Linked DNA regions of Homo sapiens: all the other regions are linked to region 5. Evidence: fine-mapped expression QTL. A gene starts in region 5. Each other region holds a variant in brackets. All regions are shown on one strand. Distances are from middle to middle. Region 1 overlaps SNTG2 (syntrophin gamma 2). Region 2 overlaps SNTG2 (syntrophin gamma 2). Region 3 overlaps LINC01115 (long intergenic non-protein coding RNA 1115). Region 4 overlaps SNTG2 (syntrophin gamma 2). Region 5 holds the start of SNTG2 (syntrophin gamma 2). Region 6 overlaps SNTG2 (syntrophin gamma 2). Region 7 overlaps LOC105373480 (a long non-coding RNA gene).

Region 1 (4,067 bases), 170 kb after region 5:
ATACTTCTCAAACTCTTTCAACAAATAAATCTAGAGGGAATAATTATGTATACATTTTTAAAAGCCAGCATCACCGTGACACCTAAGCTGAACAAAGATGTCACTAACAATGAAAACTACAGGCCAATTTTTCTGATGAACAAATGACAGAAACATTCTCATAATGACTTTAGCAAGCCAAGTCCAACAGCACATTAGAAAGATTACATGTCATGACCAAGTAGGATTCATCCATGGCATGTGAGGCCAGTTTAACATTTTCAGATTAACCAATGTGACACATCACATTAACAGACTGATGCAGAAAAATCATTTGACAAAGCCCAATATCTATGATAAAAAATCTCACCAGTTCAGGTATAGACAGCATGTTCACAATAAAGCTATTTATGAAAAATTCCTAGCTAGCATTATAATCAATATGAACAAACGCTTTAACATTAAGATCCTCTGCAAGACAAGGATGCCCAGTCTTGCCGATTTTATTCAACATGACACTGGAAGTACTTGCAATTAGCAATCAGACAAAAAAAAAAAAAAAAAAAAGGCATCCGAATAAGAAAGGAAGAAGTAAAGTTATCTATTTGCAGATGGCATGATTCTATTTGTAAAAACCCCAAAGATTCCACAGAAAAACTGTTAGAACCAATAATTCAGTAAAGTTTCAGGATATGAAATTCATATGCAAAAATTAATAGCATTGTCATACACAAATAATAGCTGAAAAAGAAATCAAAACAATCCCATTTATTAATGCAAGCATCAGAAAAAAATAAAATATTTAGCAATAAGTATAACCAAGGAGATAAAAGACCTATACAATGAAAACTGTAAAATATTGATGAAGACAATTCAAAACATTGAAGAAGATACCAATAAATGGAAAGATATTTTGGGCTCATGTCTGGGCTCATCATAATTAATATTGCTAAAATATCTATGAGCCAAAGTTATATATAGATTCAGTGTAATCCTTATCAAAATCCCAATGACATTTTTCACAGAAACAGAAAAAACAATTCAAATATTCATATGGAATCACAAAAGACCCTGAATGGCCAAACAGTTCTAAGAAAAAAAAAGTTGGAGGCATCACACTTTCTGATTTAGATTATATTACTATAGTAATCAAAACAGTATGGTGTTGGTATAAAAAACAGACACCTACACCAGTGGAGCAGAATAGAAAGCCCAGAAGTAAAACTAAACGTACATGCTCAACTAATTTTGGACTAAGGGCATCAGGAGGATACAATGGAGAATGTATAGTCTTTTCAATAAATGTTGCTGGGAAAACTGGACTTCCACATGTGAAAGAGTGAAATTGGACTCTTGTCTTACACCGTATAGGAAACCTACCAAAAATGGATGAAAGTCTTAACTGTAAGATCAGAAGCCATAAAACTCCTAGAAGAGAACGTTGGAGAAGAGCTCGTTGATATTGGCCTTGGCAATAATTTCTTGGCTGTCACACCACAACCTCAGACTACAAAAGCACAAATAGATAAATTGGACTACATCAAACTGAAGTTCCTGCACAGCAAACAAGACCAGCAGCCTATGGATTGGGAAAGTATATTTGCAAAACATGTATCTGATAAGAGGTTAATATTCAAAATTTATGAAGAATTCATTCAGGTTAATAGAACAAGTAAACCAATTAAAAATGGGCAAGGCAGATACAGAAAGACAAGCGCCACATGCTCTCACTTATATGTGGAATCTAAAACAATTGAACTCATGGAA[G/A]CAGAGAGTAGAATGATGGTCACAGAAGCTGGGGATTGGAGAATGGGGAGATGACGGTCAGAGGGCACAGACTCTCAGTTGTGCAGGAAGAATTTTTTTTAAGTTCTATTGCACAGTGTGGCAAAGATAGCTTTTTAATAGATTATTGTACATTTCAGAATTGCTAAGAAAATTATCTTGTTTTCATTATAAAAACATGTGAAGTATTTGAGGTCATAGATATGTTAACCAGCTTGCTTTCATTATCCCATATTGCATTCATAAATCATAACATTATTTTTACCCTGTAAGTTTATATGATTATAAATTGTCAATTACAATTTGAAAATATATAGGGTGGAATATTACTCAGTCTTTTTTTAATTTTTCTCAGACAGAGGCTTGCTTTGTTGCCCAGGCTGGAGTGCAGTGGTGCGATCTCAGCTCACTACAAGCTCTGCTTCCCAGGTTCATGCCATTCTCCTGCCTCAGCCTCCTGAGTAGCTGGGACTACAGGTGCTCGCCACCACGCCCGGCTAATTTTTTTTGTATTTTTAGTAGAGACGGGGTTTCATTGTGTTAACCAGGATGGTCTCGATCTCTTGACCTCATGATCCTCCCACCTTAGCCTCCCAAAATGCTGGGATTACAGGCGTGAGCCACCGCGCCCGGCCTACTCAGTCTTAAAGAAGGAGGAGGTCCTGCCCTTTGTCACAACAGGGTTGAACCTGGAGGACGCTATGCCAGGGGAAACAAGCCAGACATTAAAGGGAAATACCACATGACCTCACTTATGGGTGGAACCTGACGAAAAGGTCAAACACGCAGAGAAGGAGAATAATACAGTGGTCACCAGAAGTGAGGAGATGGTGGTGGGGAGGAATGAGGAGCTGGAGGTCAGAGGATGCAAAGCCGTGCACAAGTAGGCGAGCGAGTTGAGAGGTCCAGTGCTCAGCATGAGGACTGAAGGTCACACAATCATACCGTGTTGGGGATTCCTGCTACATTTTAGCTGCTCTTGACACACACAAAACAAAACAAAACAAAAATATGGGTAATCAGGTGAGATGATGGATATGTTAATTTGCTTCACTATAGTAACCATTTTACTATCTATAACATCTTTTTGTATGCCTTAGACATACTGTTATTATTAATAGTAACAAAAATCTACTGGACACCCACAGGACATTCACAATTTGAATCAACACCAGCATTAACCTTCAAATTATGTTAAATAAAACTTTTTATTTAAAAGTCTTCATTTTAATACGCTAAATATTCAGTTACTATAAATAGCTACTAAAGTCTGGCTGCTCGAGAGATTTCTTGCATAGCATATTTATTTCATAATATTAAAACTTCATTTCTTCATTTATGAACTTTATTATCAAAGTAGAGATTTTTTGTCCTTTTTTAAATCAAGAGTGTGTAACAGGAAGCTGAGTTTTCCTCTCCTCTGTCCCTTCCTCCTGTCCTCCTCTTGCTTCTTCCCTCTCCCTCCCTTCCTTTGCCTTCAAAGCACCCATGCATTTGTGCATATTTTTATTTGTATCCTTAGGTTTGAAGTTTGCTGCTTTCTTCTAATATCTTGGTGTTAGTCATTCAAAACCCTTAATAACTACCATACCTCCAAAACAGAATTGTTTTCTAAGATGAGTTATTGTAAATATAAATCACAGAAGGAAAGCATACTTTAGATGGACATGCTACTTTTCTTAAAGATTTACAATTAAAGATTTACAGTAAATACATGTCAGCTGTTTTAATTTTGATGTGTGTTTTGCTTAATTTATTCTCAATTGAGAAACTTTTTCTCTCTTGGGGCAAAAAGTAACACATTAGATCAGTTAGTAAATTTCAGAACAGGATATGATGATAGAATGAATGACAGAAGTAGACAGTAGGGTGTGGTGTACAGGGATAGGGTGAAGCTGTGTTTTTTTTAATTAACACATAATTGTACATATTTATGGGGTACATAATGATGCTTCAATACATACAATTTATAGTGCTCAGATCAGGATAATTATCATATTCATCATCTCCAACATTTATTATTTCTTTGTGTTGGGAATATTCAATATGCTCTCTTCTAGCCATTTGAAAATAAACAATATATTATTGCTAACTATCATTATTCTACAGTGCTATAGAACACTAGAAGTATTCCTCCTATCTAGCTGTAACTGTGTATCCTTAAAAAAATCTCTCCACATCTCTCTTACCTCCTCCCCTTCCCAACATCTAGTAACCTCTATTCTACTCCTTAGTTCTATGAGACCAGCTTCCGCATATGAGTGAGAACATGCAGTGTTTAACTTCCTGGGCCTGGCTGACTT
Region 2 (4,067 bases), 100 kb after region 5:
AATTCCTCCCAATAATGTTTTGTAATTTTTATCACAGAAATTTTGCACATCTTTCATTAGATTTATTTCTAGATATGTTTAATGCTACTGTAAATTGCATGTTTTTATTTCAACTATTTTTTGTTGCTGATATGTTGAGACACTAAAAATATTGACATAATAAACTGATATTTTTATTAATTTCAAAGATTAATTGCTTATCTGTTTTCATATCACATGCGTAGATACTTTTGGATTATCTCCATGCTCAATAATATCATCTATGAAAAATGCTGGTTTTATTTTTTCAATGTTTACACATTTCCTTCCTCCCTCCCTCTCCCCCTTTCTTCCTCCCTCCCTCCTTCCTTTCCTCCCTTCCTCCCTTCCTCCCTTCCTTCCTGTTTGCTTTATGATTGTATTGGCTGGGAGCTGCAGTACCATGCCGTATTGAAGTGGTGCTGTTGAGCACCCTTTGCTCATTCCTTTTCTCAGGAATTTTCAAGCTTTACGCTGAGTATGACATGTGCTGTAAGTCTTTTGTAGACGTCTCTAACCAGTTATGGAAGCTCTCTTATTAAAAGGCTTTAGGTAACAACATTTGTCAACACTTTTTTGAGATTAATCAATGATCATATAAGTTCTTTGCTCATATGGTATGGTTGCCAGCCTGGAGGAAGGCACCTGGTATTCACTCCCCTGTGCAACCCATCTGATTTGTACTCGGGGCAGCTTCTGTTGTCATGGTGTATGGCATATCTGATGATCTGCCATTCCTGATACTGGGCTATAAAGTCTGCAGTTTCTGTGCTGGGGGCAAGCATTTTTCCTCCTGGATCATTCTTTCCAGTATATGCCATGTTGTGAACTATCATTGGAGAGGCCCACGTGGCAAAACACTAAAGCCTCCGGCAGCCACCACAGGAGCGATCTGGAAGCAGATCTGCTGGCCACACCTGAGCCTTCAAAGACGGCAGCACCCCCAGCAGCTGGGCTGCAGTCTCTGCAGGACCCGGAGCCAGAAGCACTCAGCTGGGCTCTCACAGAATCCTGACATTCAGAGGCTGTTGGTTGTTGGATATTTTATTACACAACATTAGAGAACTCTTCCATGTTATGAATTACGCTGATTTTCAAATGGTAAACTACCCTTACATTTTTTATTGTAGTTGCTTTAAAAGTATTTTGCTTTTTATATTTTTTGGATTAGATTTCATAATATTTTATTTAGGATTTTTTTTATTTATATTCATGGGGGTAATTGATAAGTAATTTTACTTTATTATAACCTTCTTGTTAGGTTCTGGTCTGCAGCTTAGGTTGGTTGTATAAATGAGTTTACTGGTAGTCATTGTTTTTCTATTCTGTGGAAAAGTTTGTATAGTATCCATGTTATTTATGAAATATTTAGAGGAATTCACTGGGCCCAGAGCTTACTTTGTGAAATAATTTTAATACTAAGTTCAACTTTTAAGTTACGTACAGGAATATTTATATTTTTATTTAATATTATATCTGTTTTAGCAAATTGCATGTTTTAAAGAGTTCATCCTTTGTACACAAATCACAAACTGTAAGGTAAAACATTCTTGCTATTTTCTTGTGTGCTTTTCATATCTGCGGGACTCATAGTGGCTTCCCCCTTTCCTCATCTGGCTGCTTCTGTGTGTTCTCTCCTTATTTCTCACTTCTTCCAGAGAACTGTTCTTTGGCTTTGTTCATTAGTTGATTTGTCTTCTGTTTCATGTATTTCTGCTCTTATTTCCTTTATTCTCTTTCCTTTTTCTTGCTTTGCTTTTGGAAACTGAAATCAGAGGTCTCTAAAGTGTTTTGAAAGCCACATGGTACCTTAGGATCACTGGCCATGTCGTCCTTTATAGACAATTCTGCCATCCTTTCGTGGAAGCAGGTGAAGGGCCGTGGCTGTGTTCCAATAAAACTTGATTTACAGACACAGGCGGTGGACCTGAATGCTGGGTGGCCTACCCTGGGATGAGGTCGCTGATTTTCACCTTTAGTTTCTGCATGCATTCCAGCTGTAAGTTATTCAGTTGCAGCTGCACTTCACAGGTTTTGAAAGTCGTAAGCTCACAATCTGTTCAAAACACGTTCCAGTTTCCACTGCGAGTCCCCTCCTGGATCTGTGGTGATTTGTGAGTATGTTGCTAAACTTTTCAGGAG[C/A]GGAGATTTTCTGTTATCTTTTTCTGGTAGTTTTCCATTGCCACATATGTGAAAATAACATACTCTGACTTCAGTCCTTTGAGATTTTTGAGGTTTTCTTTATGACCCTGCGTTTTGTCCACGTAGGAAGGAGGGTGTTCTGCTGTTGCTGAGCACAGTGTTCAACAGACATCAGTCAGCTTCCATTCCTTCACTGTGCTTTTCAGATCAGTGCAATGCTGATTTGTTCATGCTTCTAAAATGTAGGTAAGCAGGCTTATTTTTAATTCCTGAGTTTTTCATTATATGCTATGATTCTAGAAATGCATTAAAAGTTTTTTTTATTGAAGATGAAAGTTATTTTGGCAAAAATATCAATTTTACATTACTGAAAACTTTAATAACATATAATTTTGTTGTTTCTTTATTCTTAAAATCTAGCTACTCCAGGAGGATGTGTTCTGGTGTTGACTGTTGATCAGTATCACTCCATCCCCCCCCACCCCCCCAGCCCTTTGCAGCTAAGTTGTGTCTCCTTGATGGCAGATGTCAGTTTCACGGAGACGTAATTGTTTCCAGGAGTATTATTTCTATGCCTTTTTATTGTTTTCCACTTTGGAAACATGAGTTACATGCTAGGTATCCAGGTCGTGTTCATTTGGCATCCATCTCTGTCGTCCTCTCCACATCATCATTTCCCACCTCATTTGTGTGATGCAGTTAGGCCTCCATGTGGTGACTCTGGTTCTTGATTGTTTTCATTTGACTTTATTGCATTTTATTGTGGCATTGATTCTGATTACTTTAACCTGCATTCACCTTCCTTATCCTTTCCTCCATTCTTTTCTGAGCTGATGACTCCCTTTCAGGTAATTCTGTTTCCATGGTCCCTCCTTCTCACCTCCTCTTCTCCCTTCCTCCCTCCCTCCCTTTGTCCCCTCCTCTCCTCCCTCCCGCCCCCCTCTTGCTTCCATATGAGTGGGAGACCTCGTGTTCCCTCCTCCCTCTGCAGGCCCTGTGAGGTGCAGGATTACAGGGATTTAACCTGCATGTCTTGGCCTTGTTGTTTGTGCAGCCCTCTAAGTGCTGCACCAGCATGACAGGCACCACGCCTGCCACCTGCACATGTCTGCTGGGGCACTGCGGACCCGTGTCATTGCCACCCTGATTCAGACGGGCGGACCTGAACCTTTGGTTGTTTCCCGTGGTGCGGCTCGGGGGTGTTCTGCCACCTTGTCAGGTGGTGGAAATTGGCCCTTTCTCCTGCATCCCTAAGCGTCAGACCTCAGCCGTTCCCACCCAAGAGAGGCGGCCCACACCTGGGCTGTGGCTGGAGCATCTTCACGGCACCAGGAGTTCACTCTTCTTCGTGCCAAGGAATTGGTTAATTCTTCTAGGATCTAGCATTTTTAATTATCTAACTCTAATGAGGGGTTTACGTAGAGGGCTTCGGGGATTTTCAGTATGGCTCTCTATTTGACTGAGTTTGAAGGATTCCTGAAAGGAAATCCCAAGCTCCTACTGTGGTTTTGTCACTCTTCCTAGCAGGTTTAGGATGCAGTCCTACATGGCTAGAGATGTTAGAGAAGGTCTCAGTAATATCCCTGTGAACCCCACAGAGCCGCCTTGGTGATTCTGGGACCCCCTGGAGGTGACACATTCCTGAGACACCCCAGGGTACACAGCAATAGCATAATTAAGCCCCATGCTAATGAAGTCTTTTCCCCAGACCTTGGATCAGAATATCACTTGTTAATATTATCTGAAGTTAATGTTGATGTATTTTTGGATTTTCAAAGAGGTACATTTTCAAATGAAAAATCTAAATTGGGAAAATGAAGAAAGTAAAACAGAATAATGTAATTGTAATTAGGGTCTACTATTAAGCATTTGAAATACATGAGATGAAAATTAGCCATTTTAGAAGT
Region 3 (4,067 bases), 89 kb before region 5:
GAGAGTGTGTAGCTCTCAAAGCGCCCACGAGCCTGTCATCTCCCACTTAAATATCTTCCCGTGAAACAGACAGAAGCATTTGAAAAGAGATCCTTCCACTGCCACTGTGAGTTGGATCGAATTCCCATACATTTGGGAGAGAAAAAAAAACTCAATTTTATCTGGATTTAAAAATCCAACGCTCACAGCACAGGCACAGTCAACATAACATCTTTAAGCGCACCGTCTACACTGGCTGTGATTTCACTGCCCCTGTGGCCTACACCTGAGTCAGGCTGTTTATTCCCTCACCGGGAGCCGGACGGACTGTGCTGCCTCCAGCTGCTCTGGCTTAGAAATGTGCCAACAAGAGGAAAAATCGCCCAAAACGCCACCTTTAAGGGATCCTGAGAGAGCCATGGACCTTCATGAAGAAACACTTTTCCCCAAAACAATAAAAAGGTATTGACCCATTGCTTTTTGTCATGAATGTTCTTTCAAAATGCTGCAGGAATGAAGCTCTGAGTAACGGAATCCTGATATCAATTCTAACAGGAATAGCTAAATAGTTGAGGGTTTTCAAAATCAATGGGAAAAATTTATAAGATGAGAATCTTGTTACAAAGAAAAAAAAATAGGGATCTAAATGTTGAGAAACATTGGAAGGTCTCGCAGTCCAAAACCTCGACATCAGAACTGACTGAACATTTGTACAAAGTGAAGTTCCAGGAGCTGCCCCTTTAGAAAGGCGTCCTCCCTCCCGGAGGAGCTGTCTCCACACTGCACCCTAATGCCGGCCTTCCCCAGCGCCTGTCTCTGCCAGAAGCCTCTCCTTCACAGCACTGCACCTTTGCAGCCTGCACCCACCCTCTCCCCTGGACCCCCACCCACACCCTCCACCCTCTCCCCTCCATGGCACTGGACCGTTCCTCTGGCCCTCAAGGTCCCCTGCTCACCTGCCCCCTCCACACCAGCCCCCGGCTCTGGGGCAGGAGCACGATTGTTCATTGATGTGTCTGGGACCACTGACCACATCTGACGCACAGTGCCACCAGGCGTCGCCAAGCATCCCCAAGCACCTGCGGAGTGCTCATCCCTTAGGGACTTGTTTCCTTACCTGTTACAGGAGACCCAAGAAACTTCAACAGTCCTGAGATTCCATTAGAAACAACATTTCCCTAAAAGGGGGCACGTGGGGGTTCTGAGAGTCCCATCATCAGTTACTGGAGCCCCCACCTTATTCCTCAGCCCCCCACCTTATTCCTCAGCCCCCACCTTATTCCTCAGCCCCCACCTTATTCCTCAGCCCCCACCTTATTCCTCAGCCCCCACCTTATTCCTCAGCCCCCCACCTTATTCCTCAGCCCCCCCATTCCTCAGCCCCCACCTTATTCCTCAGCCCCCCCATTCCTCAGCCCCCACCTTATTCCTCAGCCCCCACCTTATTCCTCAGCCCCCCCCTTATTCCTCAGCCCCCCCCTTATTCCTCAGCCCCCACCTTATTCCTCAGCCCCCACCTTATTCCTCAGCCCCCACCTTATTCCTCAGCCCCCACCTTATTCCTCAGCCCCCACCTTATTCCTCAGCCCCCCACCTTATTCCTCAGGGCAGAAATGAAAACATGGTTTTCCATTTCCCTTTTTGTTACTCAGGTCACATAACAATCACTTATATGGCAAAATTTCAGATGCAATTAGAGAGTTTTCAATACTTCCCCCATTGAATTTCAGATTGGTGAGGTTTTTGTTCAAATTTTCCCTCAAAATTAGTTGTTTAAAGATTTGCGCTAGCTTGGTACACTCACATGTCCAAACATTTACAGGAATGTCTGTGCATTCCTGCGCTCTCTTGAGAGAGAAGCAACGAAGAACCTGAACGATAGAAATTAACATGCACATGTAAAAGAAACCGGCATCTTTATGCCACGCTCAGAACGCTGGAGGAGCCTGGATTGTCACCTGTAACTCAACAAACCTCACTCCTTCCTGGGAAAAGCGTCTCCAAATGGCACCAGCATGGGACCAATCGCTCAGGTGCAAAAAAAAAAAAAAAAAAAAAAATACGACTTTCCCTGCACACCCCACCTGCAGGTGCCATTGACTGCTTCATTCAGACAATCCCCCGATCCAGCCCGCCTCATGGCTCCACCAGCCCAGGGCACCCTCCTCACAGCTACCTGGACCAGGTGGAGCCTCCCTGAGGGTCTCTGTTTCCTACACACACGCGCGCAGGAACCCAGGTGAGTGAACGTTAAGTGTGGTTTGAATTGTGCCACT[C/T]GAGTGCTCAAGCCCCTCCCAGAGTTCTCCGAGACATCAGCCCCTTCACACCCCCCACGCCTCCCCCTTCTCGGCTTCCACTCCTCGCAGTGGCGGCTGCTGAACCTCCCTTCTCCCACCCCCGGGCGTGTTCTTCCCACTGTTACTGAGGGGCCAGCTCCCTGGATTCTCAGGTTTCCTCTCCTCCAACATCCCAAGCACTGAATGGGAGTTTGAGACACTTAAATGCTCTCCAAGCCAGGCATGCAGGCAGCTGTGTGTCTCACCCACACGCTGACATAACTGATGAGGGCCAGGACATCAGCCGAGACAGCGGGTGCACGGAAACCCACGAGAAAATGCTGGGCTTTCCTCCAAGTGTGAAACCCTGGATGCGTTCTGAAATCCCCAAGGATGCTGAGAGCCACAGACGTGTAGACGGAAAGAAATCAAACCATTCGCGTTGCTGATGGTGGGAGGAAGTGCGCTGCAGCCCGCACCTGCCTCCCCTGATGCCGATAGCAGGACCGGCACCCTCGTTCTCTGCAGTCACACTCCCCATGTGAAAGCGTCTCCTGTGTTCTTTCTTCCAGGATGCCATTTTCAGGCCGGCTCCTGCACAGGCAGTGCGGTGTGGTCACTGTGCTCCACTGATCCACTGAACGGGGTTTTATAAAAAGGGCGTGCGACTCAGGTGGGCAATGACCTGGCATCCCAGCCTCCAGGAAGAGCCCTTCTCCGTGTTTCAACACCCGAGCGATACAGGGATGGAGCGATGCCACTCTCTTTGGATGTTCTCCCCATGTTTCTTCTGCTGTAGAGTTTGTCACAAAGTCCCCAGTACCCTTTGGGAATAAGGTAACTCTGCCGTCTGCACCCCATCTATCCCTCAAAGCTTCAGCCAAAGGGAACATCCTCTGAGGAGTCTCCCCCAACGTCCACTCCCAGGGGGACAGCGGCCTCGAGCATCCAGCCTGCAAAGGCGTCCCCACCCCACCACAGCCACTGGTGGCCAAGGATGCTTCAGTGGTGATGAGTGCCTGGGGAGACAGGGTCTCAGTAAACACCTGTTGAATATAACTCAACACAGTGCAGGTGCAGAGGCCCACACCTCCCCAGCCCTCCACCTCCCTCCCTCCCTCGATTCCTTCCTTCCTCCCTCCACCTTCTCTTTCCTTCCTGCCACTTGTCCCTTTGCTTCCTTTCTCCTCTCCTACGGACACCAGGACCCAGTTGTTCAACAGCAGAAGGGAACTCCACCTTCCGACTTTTCCACACAACACAGCTCCTGCATCTCAGAGCTCCAACTCCATCAAAGGCCTCAAGAAAGGAGCTCGGGGTGGCCAGGGTGCTCCTGCTCCAGGCATGCCAGATGGTTTGCCAACAAACAGGATCTTTCAAACTTTCAAACCCCACTCCCTCATCTTAGAAATGACTGCACTTCACCTGGGCTACCTGCCCTGTTTCAGGGCAGTTGCAGAGCTGGTCACCAGGTCATGAACCTGAGCTTTGCCTTCATTTAACCTCTGGGAGCATCAGGTCCCTTTACTGCAAATGTGGATAAGAGCCATTCCTACTCAGGTCAGGGTTAATCATCACAAAACCCTTTGGAAATTTCCCATTGTTCAAGAGAAATTGGACCAAGCCAGTCAAGTGCACTAGGCTACACGAGACCACTAAGTGGACCAGGCTTATGCGAGATCACTGCAGCAGAGGAGAGAGGTGGATCAGGCTGTGTGAGACCACTGCAGTGGAGAGGTGGATCAGGCTGTGTGAGACCACTGCAGTGGAGAAGAGAGGTGGATCAGGCTGTGTGAGACCACTGCAGCAGAG
Region 4 (4,067 bases), 34 kb after region 5:
TGCAGTGGGTTTCTGAAAGAAGCAGCGTGGACAGGACTCCCGTGGGCAGGGCCCCTGTCACTGTGCCTGGGCAGCTATCTCTTCTCTTGTGCTCACTCAGCACCTCGGGTTAGTATTGACCGTGGCCCTCATTCAACACTGATTGTGGACTTGGTCACTTTGTAACTGAGCCTCGCCTAGAATGGAAGTCCCAAGGTGCAGAGACTGTGCCTGGAGGAAACTGTGAGACACTAAAACCCCATCCCAAGGAGGGGGAATCTGTGCAACAAATGGTCAGGATGAAGCAGAGGCTCTCTTCCATAGAAGCTGCGGAGGTAGTGGTCAGGATGAAGCAGAAGCTGCAGGGGTGGTGGTCAGGATGAAGAAGCTGCAGAGGTGATGTCAGGATGAAGAAGCTGCAGAGGTGGTGTCAGGATGAAGAAGTTGCAGAGGTGGAGGTTGGGATGAAGCAGAGGCTCTCTTCTGTAGAAGTTGTGGAAGTGGTGGTCAGGATGAAGAAGCTGCGGAGGTGGAGGTCGTGATGAAGCAGAGGCTTTTTAGCAGAAGCTGCAGAGGTGGTGGTCAGGATGCAGAAGCTGCAGAGGTGGAGGTTGGGATGAAGAAGTTGCAGAGGTGGAGGTTGGGATGAAGCAGAGGCTCTCTTCCATAGAAGCTGCGGAGGTGGTGGTCAGGATGAAGAAGCTGCAGAGGTGGAAGTCGGGATGAAGAAGTTGCAGAGGTGGAGGTCGGGATGAAGCAGAGGCTCTTTAGCAGAAGCTGCAGAGGTGGTGGTCAGGCTGCCCCATCTATCATCACGCTCTGATTTAATCAGGTGCTGCCTCCCACCCTTCCTGCCCAACTTGGTGCCTCCTGCATGACTTTCAGGGGGGCTGCGAAGCAGGTGTCCCAGATCTAACCCTCCGAAATAGTCACTCTCCGCCCTGGGGCCAGAATCGTGTTTGCAGCCTCCAGCCCACCTGCCCTTCTCCTGTTCTGCACTCAGTGGCTCCCGTTGCCCCAGGATGAACTCTGAGCTCCTAAGTGTACGCTGACCTTCAGTCTTGATTCATGTCCCTGGTTGGATTTAAAGTGTTGTAGGTACCAGTTTTCTTAGAAATTGGTCCAGAATATATTGAGTAGAGGGAGATTAAAAGATCAAGACATACTTCTCACTTGTGGGCACCCTCCACCATGGAGCCTGGAGAATCACTGAGGAATGGGAGGAGGGATGAGGGTGTTCAGAGGGCAGAGGTGGGTGCAGAACTCACCTGGCCATTGCCACTTGGGAGAAGTCGGGCTCCACACAGCATGGCCTCTGAGATGTCTGTGTCCCTGTGTCCCTGAGGGTCAGTGTCAAGAGGAGGCCAGACTGTGTCTGAAAGAGCTGTGGGCACACCCCTTTGTTGAAGGGCTGCAGAGAGGGGCGGTGGCACCAAGCTGCCCCATTGCTGAGGGGCCAGGTGGCAGGAGCTCTGTGAGCCACACATCCCTCGGCTGCTTGGCATTGCAGAGGTGACGCTATTGAATCACACTTTACCCTGGGGTTCTTGTACAAACCAGATGCACTTTTGGAGAAGAAAAATAAGCCTCACTTATTTCGAACAGCCTTCCCACTTTTACCCAAAAGAAACAAAGCTTTTTTTTTTTTTTTTTAATAGCACACT[T/C]TCATGCAGTTAATTAAGATAAAATGAAAACAAAGGGCAAAATCTCCTCTCTGGTTGGTGATGGAAATGGGAAGTGCGTGTTTCTTCTACCAAGGGAAGGAGGCTCAAATCTTCCAGCATGAGGCTTTTTCATTTCACTCATTTCTCCACGGTCCAAGCAGGAGCTCTGTGCTGTTTGCTGGGTAGAAGATACTCGGTGCTTCCTTGCTCTCTGCTAAATGCCATCTACCCTCTCCCATCCCCTCTCGTCCTCCCTGGTCCCTTTGGTGCACTCTGACTGCTTCTGGTTCCCCACTCTGTGGCCTCACCTGTCTGTCCTGAGCGCCATGAGGTCAGCTGTGGCCCTGCCGTCCTGAAATTGCTCCTTCACTTGGCACATCCTGCCATCATCAGCGGCCTCCATGAGGGCACTGCCTTAGCTCCGTGACTCAGGACAGTGCTAAAGAAGTCAGTGTGTTCTCAGCGGGGAAGACGAGGGTAACAGACGTCCAGGTGCTGCGTCAGCTCCACGGGGAGGGAAGCACCCACTTCTCAGTTCCTGAACCCAGACCTTAGGTCTTCAAGTCTAATGCTTATTTTATTGGGGCACAGTAGAAGTTTTATTATCAATCAGAATTTAACAAGGATTGACATGAACCTATTTGTTTCTTTTACATAGTTTTCTTCAGTAACACTAGAAAAGACAGTTCTAGGCTGCACAATTTGCTGGGGGAGTTTTTCTGTGCAGAAGCATATTATATGTCCATTTTTTTCCCCAAAAACAATCACCTCAATTTGTGAAGACAAAATCCGATCATCAAGTGTTGCCTGAAAAGCAAATATATATCACTCTCATTCTTAGACATAATGTGGCTTCTGCAGACCACACGCCACTCCCTCCTAAAGAAAACAGCACGGACTCCCCTCCAGGAAGAGCTTTTCCTGCTGAATTTATATCGGGTTCCATCAAAGAAAAGCGACGGAAATGCATGTGCCTGCAGCCATTAAACAGAAAGACAAGTTGATTTTTTTTTTTGGCAAATTTAGAAACTGGTGAGAAAACGTTTCATGCTAGAGCAACTTCTGTAATTAAGATATTTTCTTCCTCTAAAATAGAAGGGTTTGTGTGAGCTCAGGGATGTGTCTTTTTTCTTTCCTAGGAAGTGGAAAAACCAGACCCTCAAATTAAGCTGAGGGGCCCTGCTAGGAATAAGAGGGCCTGCAGCTCCCCAGCTCCCCCTCTGCTGGGCCAGGCAGAGACACCCTGGGAGGATCTAATCCTCAAACCAAGGCCATTTTGCTTTTTAACTTTGGGGGATATGCACAGGATAATTTTCAGAGAGAAACAGATGCTGGTAAACTGATATCTCAGGCCTTCAGTCAGAAATCTAGCATTCTCTGTGGTTGATTTTATGGTATTCTTGCCTACACAAGTTGGTAAGTAACCCGTCTTCTGATAGGACCGTCTGAGAGCAGTTTCACCTAAAGGAAGCCGACGCTGGTTGGCTTTTTATCCTAGCTGCTTTCAGTTGGCGTAAATGTTTCTCCTTTATCACGTGAATCCTCTTAACTTTAATTTTATTGCAAGAATGATTAATATTGAGACAGCCAAGTGTTATCACAGTTTCATGGACAAGAAAGAGACAATATGTGGAAGAAAAGTACTGTGTTTGGAGACCCAACCTATTTTTATTTTATTTTTCTGAGAAGCAAAGCTCAGAAAGGAAGAGGGGAGAGGGATTTGTATTTTATTTATTTCTTTTTACTATTTACAGGGAAAAATACATTCCCTGCAAATAATAGAGAGAGAGAGAGAGAGAGAGAGAGAGAGAGAGAGAGAGAGATCAGAGGATTTCCCATGTGCTGAGTATCAATTTTCCTTTCACACAGTCTTGCATGGGGGGCTGGGGAAGCACTGAGCACAGGCAGCTCATTTGGGGACATGGCCGGGATGGCCCCTGTACTCTCATGGCCTGAGCAGAGTTGTGGCCCCTGGGGTGGCCTCCCAGACCTCCTTCTCACACGCTCTACCAGGGTTGTTTGGGATGCAATGACAAAGGTAACTTTACCCTTTAGAGAAGAGAAAATCTCACCTGGAATCAGGTTTCTGTTTTCATTTTTAACATTTGAAAAAATGCCCCTTGACGTGAGTTGAACTAGACTAACAGATAATGCTGATTTACCTAAATAGGACTTCCCATGTAGGAATGGACAGATGTTGTGAATGAGGTTGTCATGGTTAGTTAAAAAGGGAAGATTTCAGATAAGACACATTTGGAACCTTCTGGACAGCTCAGGATCCCCTAAGAAGGATCGGCATACCAGTGGCTGAGCCTGATGCTCACATTGTATTTAATAGCCTCTACCTCCTTAAAGACTATCGGAGATTCTGTGAAATGTCTAGGCAAGATTGCTTTCTTAGCAAGTGGAACATTTTTTTCTACC
Region 5 (4,067 bases):
AAAATTTTAACAAAAACTTGTCTCTCAAAGTCAACATTTATGCATGCAACACGCTGTTTTTCCTTCTTCAGGCCCTGGAATAGAATGTCCCTTTGCAAGGTAATGAGACAATATCTTTGTGCTATTTGTAGACATTTAATTTCTCAGAGATTATATGCACGCTCTTTTAAAAATGCAATTTAAAGGCAAACAATAATCTCTTGTACTTTTTCTTATTCTAGGTTTTGCTACAAATAAAAAGTAATACAATATTTTTTACCAATTCACCCAAGAAGCATATTTTGTAACAGCCACTGTGCCACGTATAAAAAGACCTGGTTTTTGCTATTCAAGAGCTTGTCCTCTGGTTAAACTGAGTGCTAAGAAGTGCTGGCAGACTGCCGTGAAGGTGAAACAGGAATACAGAGAATAGAGAAATGGGGAAGGGCGTCTGTGTTCGAAACCCAGGTCTGCTCAGGGGTCAAGCAAGTCGGAGTCAGAAAAAGTAAAGTGTTTAACATCGAGTTTTCAATATTTATTTGTTTACAATGCGTCACATTCTGCTCCTAGATAGGGTTAACCTCTGAAGACCTCAGATTTCGCTGCTTTTCCTTGCCGTGGAGAGGGAATAAAACGGGCATCGTGGCCTCCGCGATGGGCGCTCGTGCCTGGGTCGAAGGACTGGGGGGCGGAGGATTTGGAAAGGGAGAAAAATACGGGCTGGCTTCTTTTTAAAAAATGTGGGTAGCCTTGCCTGCCCCCGCCGCACTGGAATTTATCCTAAACTTACTTTCATTTACATTAAAACAAGACGATTTGAGTCTACCAAACCCAATACTGCATCTGTGAGGCTCCTTTTGGCACAAACCTGAATGAACAGCGGGAAACGCCGTCTCCCCTGGCGTCTGAGATCTGGGGTCCCCTCCCCACCTGGTCTCCTCGCTCCCGCCCCAGCCCCGTGCGCCCCAGGAGGGCACCGCCGAGCGCCGGGTCCCCGCAGGGTTCGGGAGACTCCGCGGACCGGAGGAGGGATAGGACCCCCGAGCTTTGGGGGCGGGAAGGGAGGGTGGAAGGAGGAGGGGAGCGGGGTTGGGGAAAGTTGGAGCTTCGGTATCTTTTCTCCGGGCCAGGCCGTCCTCGGGGCCCTGCGCTGCGTCTCCAAGTGCTGGGAAGACTCCGCGGGGAAAGGTCTGAGGACGCGGCCGGCTGGCACAGGTGTGGCGGCTTCAGAGGGCCGGGGAGAACCCATGGCTTCGAGGCTGTGGACTAGAAATGTCCCTGATTAGAAGCTGAGAACCTTTGGCCAGGGAGGTGGGGCGGCGGGGAGGGGTCGTCAAGCCGGTCCAGAGCGCGCCCACCTGCGCCACAAGGGAGAAGAGGTGCCCCCCGCCCCCCTCCGCCCACCGCCGCCACGATGCGCCGCGGACCTCGGCGACCCAGCCCGGGTAGAAGCGCGCGCTCCCCTCCTCCAGCCTCGTGCGCCGGCCCCTGCCCCGCCAGCCCCGCTATGGTCCCCCATCCACCCCCGCGGGAGCGCCCCTGTCCCCCCATCCTGCACTTCCCCCAGAGTCGCGCGCCAGTTTCCCGCCCCGTGGAAGCGCCCCTCTCCCGACTTCGGCTGATCCCCGCTCGCCGCCCTCCCCGCGGGTGCGCGCCCGGCCCCTCCCTCGCCCGGGGCGGGTCTGCGTGGGCGGTGCTCCGGGTCGGCGGGCGGAGCTCCGGTTCCCCAGCCCTGCGCCCCGGTGGAGCCCGAGCCGGAGCCGGCAGAGGGGCGCGGGCGCGGACGCGGCGCCTGGCGGGGCCCTGGGAGGCTCGGACGGGGTCCTGGCGTTGAGCTCGGCCGGCCCGGAGCGCGGACCCAGCCGCAGGGGCGGCGATGGGCACCGAGGGACCCCCGCCCCCGGCCGCCTCCCGCGGACGCCAGGGCTGCCTGCTGGTACCTGCGCGGGTGAGTGCGGCCCCTCAGCGCCCCTTCACCTCCGGCCCCCCTTCCCTCTCCTTCGCGCCCTTCTCCCCCCGCCCCTCCTCCCTCCACGCCCCCTCGCTCCCCGCGACCCCTTCCCTGTCTCCGGGGACGGCTGGCCGGAGGGTGGGCGCCGGAGCCCCGGGACGCAGTGGGCACCCGCCCCCTGGCCGCTCTGCTCCCTCCAGCCCAGTGTCTTACTGGAAACTTGCAGGCTTTGCTCCTCCAGCGTCTTCCAAGGTTTGGTTTTGAGGCGCCCGGGCTTCCCTTTACTGCGTGGGAAGTAGTGCTTTCCAGAATTTGGGATTTGAGATTGGCCCGGCATTGCTTCCCAGGAGCGGCTCTTTCGGGCCCAGGCGGTGGCTCGGACCGGAGCGTCCCCCCTGCAGCCTTCGGGCGCCCAGGCCAGGTCTGAGTTGGCCAGTTTGAGCCCAGCCAGGTGCATGGCGCGGCCTCGGCAGGTGCTGGGGGCTCTAGGCCATTCGGGGAACCGCTGGGACGCCAACTGGGTAATACGGATTTCTTTTTTGAAGTCTATTCTGGTTCCCACCCTAAATAACTCCCTCTTCACCTTCTTATTTTTAAATAACTAAACTATTGATTGACAGAAAACAGAAATGTTGGCCCAAAGAAAAACGAAAAGTTCTTGGAAACCTTCAAGTTGCCACCCACAGCACAGCCTCGAGTTGTGAAAACAGTTTAAGGGAGCACGTGGCCACCCCAGCCCTAGGAGGCTGCCGAGAAGCGCGGCTGTTAATGAAAATGCATTGACAACCACTCCTTTAGGATTCCTTCCCCAGGAGCTCCCAGTCCCAGGAGCGACCAGGAATACAGTTAGCCCTCCCTTATAGGACAGTGGAGAGACGGTTCAGAAGGCCACGGGTTGAGGGCTGCTACAAATTCCTATCGTCATAATAATGATTCTAAACTAGGACTGTGGTCGTCGCTACTGTGATGTTAAAAAGATTTCTATGTAGAGACAGGTGCATCTTCATTCAAGTAGCACCTTTCTGGGCTTTTACTACAAAATATGAAAATTAAATTTCATGTAAAATGTGGGTGTTCGTTTCTTGAAGTACTTTGTAATATGAATAGCTATCCCACTGTTGCCCATGGTAATCAAACCCGAGAAAATATGCGGGGATTACCTGGAAATAAACCGCAGTAAAAACTGCAGGCGCTGTGGAATCACAGGCTTTCCGTCTGGTCACTGCCTTCAGCTTTATAATGATGCCCTCCCACGGTTAGGGATTGTGCATTTTTCTCCAGACATTCGAGCAAAGCAATTCTTGCTTTTAATCATTGTAATTATAGCGGAAGCGTTGAAGTGGATTCATCATACTTCATGATTGACCCACTTGATGAGTTATTGGCAATAACGTCAACAAATAAAGCAACTGCGCGTATTCTAGTAAATGCTCTCCTTTGCGCTCAGTATTAATTAAGGTGCTAAATTTGATGTTTTCCAGTCAAGAGTGGCCTCTGCTCACCTGTTTGCTACAAGATGTGATTGGCGCTTTCTTTCTAATAAGGACCTTGATTATTTGAAACAGCCTGTCTGAATTGTATTGAAAGAAACTTTTTTTTTAGCGTTGGAGGCCAAGTATTACAATAAGATGGAGCATTTTAAGAGCAAGACTCCTAACTTTGCAGTCATAAGTAATTAGGTATGTGCTAAGCCTACCTTAGACACCAGTGCATGGTCATGTTAGCTCAGATTCTTATGTATTTAAAACGAATCTGTTAAGTATTGGTGTTGGCAGGTTTGTCTTGAAAACATGAATGTTCTTAGTATACAATGTCATCCTTACTTAATGGCAGAATTATTTTCTTACCATAACTGCACAATATTATTCAACTTGTGTAATTATTTAATCATTTCAGTTAAGAGAACTTGGTGCTTTTAACTAGAAAAAGATGAAAGTCTTTTCTAAATCTTATATTTCTAGTTATATTTTTTCTATCTGAAGTCAAAACTATACACATTCTTTATCATGACTGCTTGTTTGAATCATGGAATTTGGCCACGTTTGAAGGTCTCCTGTTCGGTAACAGACCTGTTTTGTTTCCCCTTTCAAGTGCCTGTTCCCGATGTTTTTTTCTAAGTTAAGTGAGTTCATGGAGC
Region 6 (4,067 bases), 260 kb after region 5:
AAAATATAGCAGAATGTTTTAACAGTTCGTGCTCTAACTGTGAATTCCTTTTAAAGTGTGTGCTTGTGGCTTTCTTACAACATGTTTCTTTGGTTTGGGGTTAATTTGGGAACAAAGTAGAGATCTGGGCATGTATCTCTCTTGACAAAGAGGGAAATAGTGCATGAAATGACATTTGTCTATTAGCGTATTTGAATTAAATGGGTTTTTAGAAAAATAGAGCCACTGAACTTCATTACACACTTCCTAGCCCATCTGCCATTGAATGTGATGAAGATTGGCTGTTCTAGCTTTGGTTTAAGGATGAATTCAGGTCATAAGATGGAAATGTCTCCTACTCTGAGGACAGGATAGGGTCTCTACTTGTATTAGTCCATTTTCATACTACTGTGTAGAAAAACCTGAGACTGGGTAATTTATAAAGAAAAAGAGGTTTAATGGACTCACAGTTCTACATGACTGGGGAGGCCTCACAATCATGTCAGAAGGCAAAGGAGGAGCAAAGGCATGTCTTACATGGCGGCAGGGAAGAGCATGTGTGCAGGGAAACTGCCCTTTATAAAACCATCAGATCTCGTGATTCTTATTCACTACCATGAGAACAGCATGGAAAAAACCCACCCCCATGATTCAATTACCTCCCACCAGGTCCCTCCCATGACACGTGGGAATTATGGGAGCTACAATTCAAGATGAGATTTGGGCAAGAGTACAACCAAACCATATCACTAGTAATTCTTAACTAAATGCAGACTTGATAACCCATTCTGGCAGCTTGAGAACATGTAGAAACACATGTGTTATTCTTGGTGACAAAATATTTTGACCCACTAAGCCATTCATACCACAATCATTGGGATAAATACATGACATCCAGGAGAATGAAATGGAACCCAAGAAGTCAGCCGACTGCCTGAGCCTCAGATTGTTTCTGTTACAAAAGCTATCACACACTGATTTGGTTTGGATCTGTGTCCCCACCCAAACCTCATGTGGAAATGTATTCCCCAGTGTTGGAGGTGGGGCCTGGTGGGATTAGATCATGGGGCAGATTCTCATGAATGGGTTAGCAAAATCTCCCTTGGTGCTGTGCTTCTGACAGTGAGTGGGTTCTCCTGATATCTGGTCATTTAAAACTGTGTGGCACCTCCCCACTCTCTCTCTTTCTCTTGCTCCTGCTCCTACCATGTAAGGTGTCTCGCTCACCTTCTGCCTTCCACCATGATTGGAAGTTTCCTGAGGCTTTCCTAGAAGCAGAAGCTGCCATGCTTCCTATGTAGACTACAGAACTGTGAGCTGGTTAAGCCTCTTTTCTTTATAAATTACCCATTCTCAGGTATTTCTTTACAGCAGTGCAAGAACGGACCAATACACACTGTAACAGCAAACTGAAAGGTTTATAATTTTTCATAAGACAAGAATATTTTGTTTTATAAAGGCAAATATGTCTTACTAGCTTGCTGACTGTTTTATGATTTTTAAGCAAGATTTAGTATGGGCAGGAAAGGGCAAATAATAAAACGCATAAGGGCTTAAGCTATGAATTTTATAAAACCTGTTTGTTCTGAAACATATTTGTGCAAAGTCCCATTTAGAGGCTGAGATGCTGTTCTTAGCTCCACCTTACCTGTAAGCTCCTCAGGTCTCATTTTAAATGGATGAAAAAGAGAAGAGACTTGGGTGTGTTGATCCCAGTGGATGGAGTTCTAAAATTCCTGTGTATCTTCTCCTGAGGGCTCCTCAGTCTAAGGAGGGTAAGGAATAAGTTTAGAAATTGTCAATTCTAAATCAAACAGGTTTTAGAATCTTAAAACAAAAGCTGTAAGCTGTAGCCCAGGAGGAACCTTTAGATATCATATAATGGAAACATAAATAGGATGAAGAGGTTGGAAGCCAGCATCCTGTGGGTGTCCCCTCTGACTCTGTCCTTGTCCAAGTATAGGACCTCAATCTATAACCACTACCTTCTGGGTCCTTTCTAAAAATTGACAAATAATAATCATATATAATTAATGTACAATGTTATGTTTCAATACATGTTTGCATT[A/G]TGGAATAATTAAATCAAGCTACTTGGCATGTCAGTAACATCACATGCTTAGCATTTTTGTAGTGAAAATATTTAAAATCTACTCTTTTAGCAATTTTGAAATATACAATACAGTACTTACTCACTTAACATCATTGATTGGTCCTCAGAAACTGCAACTTGGAGTGAAAAGATGTATAAAGAAACCAATTTTCCCATAGGCTAATAGCTATAAATAAGAGTTAGATTCTTACAGCATATTTTTGGTCACAAAATATCACCAAACTTCTAAATAAAGACCAAAACACTTCAAATATTAAACATTGAAATAAATATGAGCTTTGCATACATTTAAGAAAGATTAATAAAAACAAGTAAGATAATTATTTGCCCAATTATTTCATTCAGGGTTGGGGAGACTGGAGTCTGTGCTGGAAGCTCAGGGCTCAAGCTGGGCAACAGCCCTGGACAGGATGCCATCCCACTGCAGGATGGCTCACACATGCCCACAGCCACTCAGCCTGGGACCATTTGGACACAGCAATTAACCTTACCTGCATGTCTTTGTGGGGAGGAAACCAGAGTGCTTAGAAAAACCCATGCAGACAGACACAGAGCAAACATGCAAACCTCACAAAGATATTGTTTCTTCTGTCACCTGTGCTTTTGGGTCATATTCAAGAAATCATTAACCAAATAAAAGTCGTGGAGCTTTTCCCTATGTTTTCTTTTAGTAGTTTTATAGTTTCAGGTCTTACATTTAACTCCTTAATCCATTTTGATTTTTGCATATGGTGTGAGATAAGCTTCTGGTTTCATTCTCCCACATGTGGATATCCAGTTCTCTGAACACCATATATGGAAGAGACTGTCATTTCCTCATGATATGTTCCTGGCACTTTTGTTGAAATCAATTGACCATAGATCTGTGGGTTTATTTCTGGCTTTTTATTCTGTTCCATTGGCCAATGTACCTGTGTTTATGCTTGTGCCTTGCTGTTTTGATTATTATAGCTTTATAATATGTTTTGAAATCAGGTAGTGTGATGCCTCCATCTTTGCTTTTTATGCTCAAGATAGTTTGGATATTCAGAGTGTTTTATGGTTCCATATACATTTTAGGATTGTGTTTTCTATTTCTTTGAAAAATATCATTGGAATTTGATAGAGACTTCATAGAATTTTGTATATCATTTTAAGTAGTATGGTATCTAAACAACATTAACTCTTCCAATCCATGAATGCAGGATATCTTTCCATTTTTGTGTGTCATCTATAATTTCCTTTATCAATGTATATTTTTCATTGTACAGATCTTTCATCTCTTTCGTTAAATTTACTCCTAGGTATTTTATATTTTTATACTACTGTAAATGGGATTGTTTTATTAATTTCTTTTTTGTATAGTTCATTGTTAGTGAACAAAATACTACTGATTTCTGAGTGTTGTTTTGTATCCTGCAAATTTTCTAAATTCCTTTATTAAGTCTAACAGTTTTTTTGAGTCTTTAGAGTTTTCTATATATAAGCTTATGTCATCAGCAAACAGAGACAATTTCACTTCTTCCTTTTCTATTTAGATGTGTTTTATTTCTTTTTCATAATTGTTCTTGTTAGCACTTCCAGTACTATGTTGTATAGATGTGGTGAGAGTGCACATATTTATCTTGTTCTGGATTTTAAGGGAAAACCTTTCAGCTTTTCATCATTAAGTATGATATTAGACGTGGGCTTGTCACACGTGTTCTTTATTGTGTTGAAGTACATTCCCTTCATACCTAATTTGTTGAGAGCTTTGATGATGAAAGGATAATGAATTTTGTCAAATGTTTTTCTGCATCTATTGCTACAATGTTATGGTTTTTGTCTTTCATTTTGTTAATATGGTGAATTAGATTTATTGATTTTGCATGTGTTGAACCATGCTTGCATCCAAGGCATGAATCCCACTTGATCATGGTGACTGATCTTTTTAATGTGCTATTGAATTCAGGTAACTAGTATTTTGATGAAGATGTTTGCACGTATGTTCATCAAGGAT
Region 7 (4,067 bases), 180 kb before region 5:
CTTCTCTGAGTACCTTTTATAAAATAACAAAGAGCACACTTTCTCCCCCACAATATCTAGAGCTCCAGTCTGGAACAGAGGGGCTCCACAGATATCAGATAGGCTAAAGTTGTGAAACTTCCAAAAACTCTTGGGATGATAATTATACTGTTGACCCTTGAATAACTTGGGGCTTAGGGGTGCTGAGCCTTCACACAGTTGAAAATCCACATATAACTTTTTGTTTCCCCAAAATGTAACTATGAATAGCCTACTGTTGACCAAAGTCTTACTGACAACATAAAAAGCTGATGAAGACATATTTTCTATGTTCTATGCATTATCTACTGTATTCTCCCAAAGAAGGAAGGTGGAGAAAAGAAAATGATATTCAGGAAACCATAAGGAAGAGAAAGTACATTCACCATTCATTAAGTGGAGGTAGACCATATAAAGGTCTTCATTCTTGTCTTCCTGTTGAGCAGGCTGAGGAGGAGGGGGGAGAAGAGGGGTCAATGTGGCTGTTTCAGAGGTGGTAGAGCAGGTAGAAACAGGTGTGTAAGGGACCTGCTCAGCATACATCTGTGCTGTGGGAGAGGAGAGGTCAGTATGGCTGATTCAGAGGTGGTGGAGCAGGTAGAAAACAGACATGTAAGGGACCTGCACAGTGTACATCTGTGCTGTGCACAGGCCAACTCCATTCATTCCCTGGAGAACTCAGCTAGCCCCCAAGGCTTCAGTCACATGGTTTTCTAAGATCTAAGATTAAGGTTCAATATTATGTGAGCTTTGGCATCAGGGGAAATCAAGAGGCCCCAAATGACCTTGCCACTGTCCCCTCCACACTCTGCTCCCTTGGGTGAGACCCCATAGACAAATGCCCCCCTCCTCCCAGGGACCAGGCACCAGCTCCACCTGAGCAGAGAGCCTCATTCAGCTCCTGGCCGGCTGGCAAAACTGTTCAAGTCAGTCAATTCCATCATTCTTCAGGAGCCAGGCATTGCCTCCCCGTCTTGTTACTACCAAGCCTGCCTCCCGAGGCCCTGTCTCTTCACACGGCTCCCGAGGCACCCTCAGGTGGTCTGCAGTGCTCCTGCCCAGGGCTGTGATTAATAACCTGCTGTCTGTCCATCTGCCCAGAGCCCAGGGTCCTGTGTTCTGCCCTTCCCAGGACTCCAGGGCGGGACCCATTCTCATCCATGGGAAAAAGAGGTGGGGATTAAATACCCTTTCCAAGAATGGACTCCAAAGTCTATTTCTCATGCATCTCCTGCTGTGCCTATCTATTCAGGGTAGTGTCTTCTCAAATCCACACAGGGCAGCTTCTCCGTGTTGCTCTCTAACATACCGAGGATGGAGCCCAGCTCAGCAGCTGACGCGACACAGACCCTCCATCAACAGTGCATGGGAAAGTTGACCAATGACCTCCTGAGAAGTCAAAGCAGCCCTACACAGGCTGCTCTGAGCATAACGCCCAGCCCGGCTCCACAGCCACACGGGCTCCTGGGTAGACAGGTGACCTGGTGTCAGAGTCACCAGTGAGGGTGAGTGCAGCCAGCCGTGCAAGTGAGCATAACGCCCAGCCCGGCTCCACAGCCACACGGGCTCCTGGGTGGACAGGTGACC[C/T]GGTGTCGGATTCACCAGTGAGGGTGAGTGCAGCCAGCCATGCAAGTGAGCCCACCAGAGCTGCTTCGCTCGGGGTAGGCTGGGGAGATCACCTCTGAGGCCGCAGGGTCAGGGTGGCTTTTCTGGAGACCCAGACCATGAGCCAGCTCAGAGAGGTGCCTGCTGCTCAGCAACTGTCAGGCCTTCAGCATTTAAGGATCTTCACAACGTTGTCTTCCTTGTACACCTGGCATATTCCTAGTTATCCAATATTCATCTTTAAACTGAATTAATTTAACTATTTAATAGTCTCATATGAAATTATCCATGAAAATTGTGGGTCTGCTATTTAGATATTTAATTTAATGGTAGGTCAACACCAATTTGTTTCTGGAAGTCTGACTAGAAAACGAGATGGTGTGTGAAAGTTAAAGAGTGTCTGAGACGGAGGGTAAATTCTGGAATTTCACGTGTTAGGATGTATACACAGAATATATGGAAAATGGCAGGGAAAGAATCATTTGAAGAGAAACCGGCGAGAAATAGCACGTGAATTCGAGGACTCTGCATTTTATCCAAGGCCCTGAGACACGGCCACCAACAACAGGTGAGAAGCAGTTCATGGAACCCTAGAGCATAAACCACCCCATTTCCCAAAGGACAGCAATGCCCTGGACCCGGCACTGAATTAAGAAGAAAAGCAGGAGGGAAGAAAGGCGTAAACGGGACACAGCAAGGAAATTCAGAGCGGGGGCCCAGGAGCTGGGTCTGGACAATGGAGGGTGACCACCCAGGACACCAGCTGGTGCTGTGGGACCGGGTGCTGCCTCAGGTTCCCACCGCAGTGTGGGCCGGCCAAGGCTCCGGGCAGCTAATTTATGCCATTTGACTTCATTAACCCGTGTGGGGGCAAATATCTCTAAAAGCTGAATGGACACTTTAGGAGTGACATTCCCTAAAACCCCACTCTTTGTATATCACGGTCCTTAAGAGAAGAGGGGCTGATGGTGTGGGATCTGTGAGACCGTGGTCAGTCGCTGCATTTCAGGCCTCCAACGCTGCTTACTTTGATCTAAAATATAACCAGAAGAACCACAGGTTTTTAATTCCAGAAGAGGTTGAATTCCTGACTCTGTTATTACCGTCTGTGATCCTGGGCAGAGTACATCTTCTGTTTGAGTTTTATCAGCCCAAAAAGGGCACCGTGTTACTTCAGAGATGGTGGTAAGAGCACTAAATGAGTGAACGGTGTCAACATCTGAGAAAGATGTGGCCCGTCCCAGGTCAACCACGCATGGTGATTAGAACTGTGTTAACCATCAGCTCAGGCCCTATGTGGAATTTCCTTCACTTATGAAAAAATGTAGAAAAAAATCATTTTCTTAAATGGTGAATGCATCTGAGTACCTTGGAGGAAACTGCTGAGGGAGCATCCAAGTGAAAATCCCCGGCTGCAGCACACACGTGCTCACACAGTCAGTGCACAAACAGGCAGCTTCTGTGCTCCCGCACTGTTGGGTTAAAGACAACAATGTCATCCTCTTAATTAGACAAATGTGTGGCTTCCAAGGGCTTCTGTCCGAGGAGACTGTGTGCAGCCTTGGATGTTCCTGCTGCCTGTGCTCATTGTCACTCTGAGAGTTTCGTTGGGGTTTGTCCACACCACACTTGCATGAAAGGATGGGTCTTGGGGTGTCTGGCTCACCTCTTATCTCCAGCACTTTAGTTAATAATTGTCTTTTGAAGGAAGAAACACATGTGAAGAGGGCCAACTGCTGGTGGAGCGTGAGGCGTGTACCTGGTGTGAACACGGGCTCCCATGCCCACAGCCTGGTGCCAGTGCCCCCCCAGCAGGTACCCTGTCCCCCAGGCCTGGCGCCCCCACCTAGCAGGCATCCTCTCCCCCAGTCTGGTGCCCCCACCCAGCAGACACACTGGCTCCCATCCTGTTTCCCCCCAGCAGGCACCCTGTGACCCTCAGAATGGAACCCCACCCAGCAGGCACTGTCCCCCAGCCTGATGCCCCACCCAGCAGACACGCCGTCCCCCAGCCTGCCCCCCAAGCAGGAACACTCTCTGCCAGCTTGAAGCCCCACCCAGCAGACACACTGTCCCACAGTCTGGTGCCCCCACCCAGCAGGCACGCTGTCCCCCAGCCTGGTGCCCCACCCAGCAGACACATTGTCCCCCAGCCTGGTGCCCCCACCCAGCAGGCACCCTGTGACCCCCAGCCTGGCACCCAGCAGACACACTGTCCCCCAGGCTGCCCCCCGAGCAGGAACACTGTCCCCCAGCTTGAAGCCCCACCCAGCAGACACACTGTCCCCCAGTCTGGTGCCCCCACCCAGCAGACACACTGGCCCCCATCCTGCCTCCCCACAGCAGGCACCCTGTGACCCCTAGAATGGAGCCCCACCCAGCAGACACATTGTCCCCCAGCCTGGCTCACCCACCCAGCAGGCACCGTGTGACCCCCAGCCTGG

The links. PIP is the estimated chance that this variant, and not a neighbour inherited with it, causes the effect. A credible set is the group of variants that fine-mapping cannot tell apart.
Region 1: its variant is the best candidate, but not a certain one, in a credible set for the expression of SNTG2 in whole blood (TOPMed, PIP 0.85).
Region 2: its variant is the best candidate, but not a certain one, in a credible set for the expression of SNTG2 in visceral fat (GTEx, PIP 0.90).
Region 3: its variant is the best candidate, but not a certain one, in a credible set for the expression of SNTG2 in nucleus accumbens (GTEx, PIP 0.82).
Region 4: its variant is the best candidate, but not a certain one, in a credible set for the expression of SNTG2 in whole blood (TOPMed, PIP 0.88).
Region 6: its variant is the best candidate, but not a certain one, in a credible set for the expression of SNTG2 in prefrontal cortex (CommonMind, PIP 0.69).
Region 7: its variant is the best candidate, but not a certain one, in a credible set for the expression of SNTG2 in tibial nerve (GTEx, PIP 0.72).

The regions. Positions count from the first base shown.
Region 1 is chr2:1,122,197-1,126,263 of GRCh38, forward strand. The region is part of intron 4 of SNTG2 (syntrophin gamma 2); the gene reads left to right. Among named protein-coding and RNA genes, the nearest start is that of SNTG2-AS1, 170 kb to the left of the region's middle. The variant G/A (reference allele first, on the strand shown) is at 1,747.
Region 2 is chr2:1,050,838-1,054,904 of GRCh38, forward strand. The region is part of intron 1 of SNTG2 (syntrophin gamma 2); the gene reads left to right. Among named protein-coding and RNA genes, the nearest start is that of SNTG2-AS1, 100 kb to the left of the region's middle. The variant C/A (reference allele first, on the strand shown) is at 2,161.
Region 3 is chr2:859,679-863,745 of GRCh38, forward strand. All of the region lies in intron 1 of LINC01115 (long intergenic non-protein coding RNA 1115), which reads right to left. Among named protein-coding and RNA genes, the nearest start is that of LINC01115, 6.7 kb to the right of the region's middle. The variant C/T (reference allele first, on the strand shown) is at 2,256.
Region 4 is chr2:982,645-986,711 of GRCh38, forward strand. All of the region lies in intron 1 of SNTG2 (syntrophin gamma 2), which reads left to right. Among named protein-coding and RNA genes, the nearest start is that of SNTG2-AS1, 33 kb to the left of the region's middle. The variant T/C (reference allele first, on the strand shown) is at 1,644.
Region 5 is chr2:949,142-953,208 of GRCh38, forward strand. SNTG2 (syntrophin gamma 2) reads left to right here and starts at 1,708. Exons shown (of 17, transcript NM_018968.4): 1 at 1,708-1,927. The coding sequence starts at 1,856. It overlaps SNTG2-AS1 (SNTG2 antisense RNA 1), which reads right to left and starts at 2,251. Exons shown (of 3, transcript NR_136151.1): 1 at 2,144-2,251; 2 at 770-1,245; 3 at 493-660. RefSeq lists a silencer at 1,617-1,746.
Region 6 is chr2:1,211,112-1,215,178 of GRCh38, forward strand. All of the region lies in intron 9 of SNTG2 (syntrophin gamma 2), which reads left to right. Among named protein-coding and RNA genes, the nearest start is that of TPO, 200 kb to the right of the region's middle. The variant A/G (reference allele first, on the strand shown) is at 2,048.
Region 7 is chr2:770,165-774,231 of GRCh38, forward strand. The region is part of intron 3 of LOC105373480 (a long non-coding RNA gene); the gene reads left to right. Among named protein-coding and RNA genes, the nearest start is that of TMEM18, 95 kb to the left of the region's middle. The variant C/T (reference allele first, on the strand shown) is at 1,606.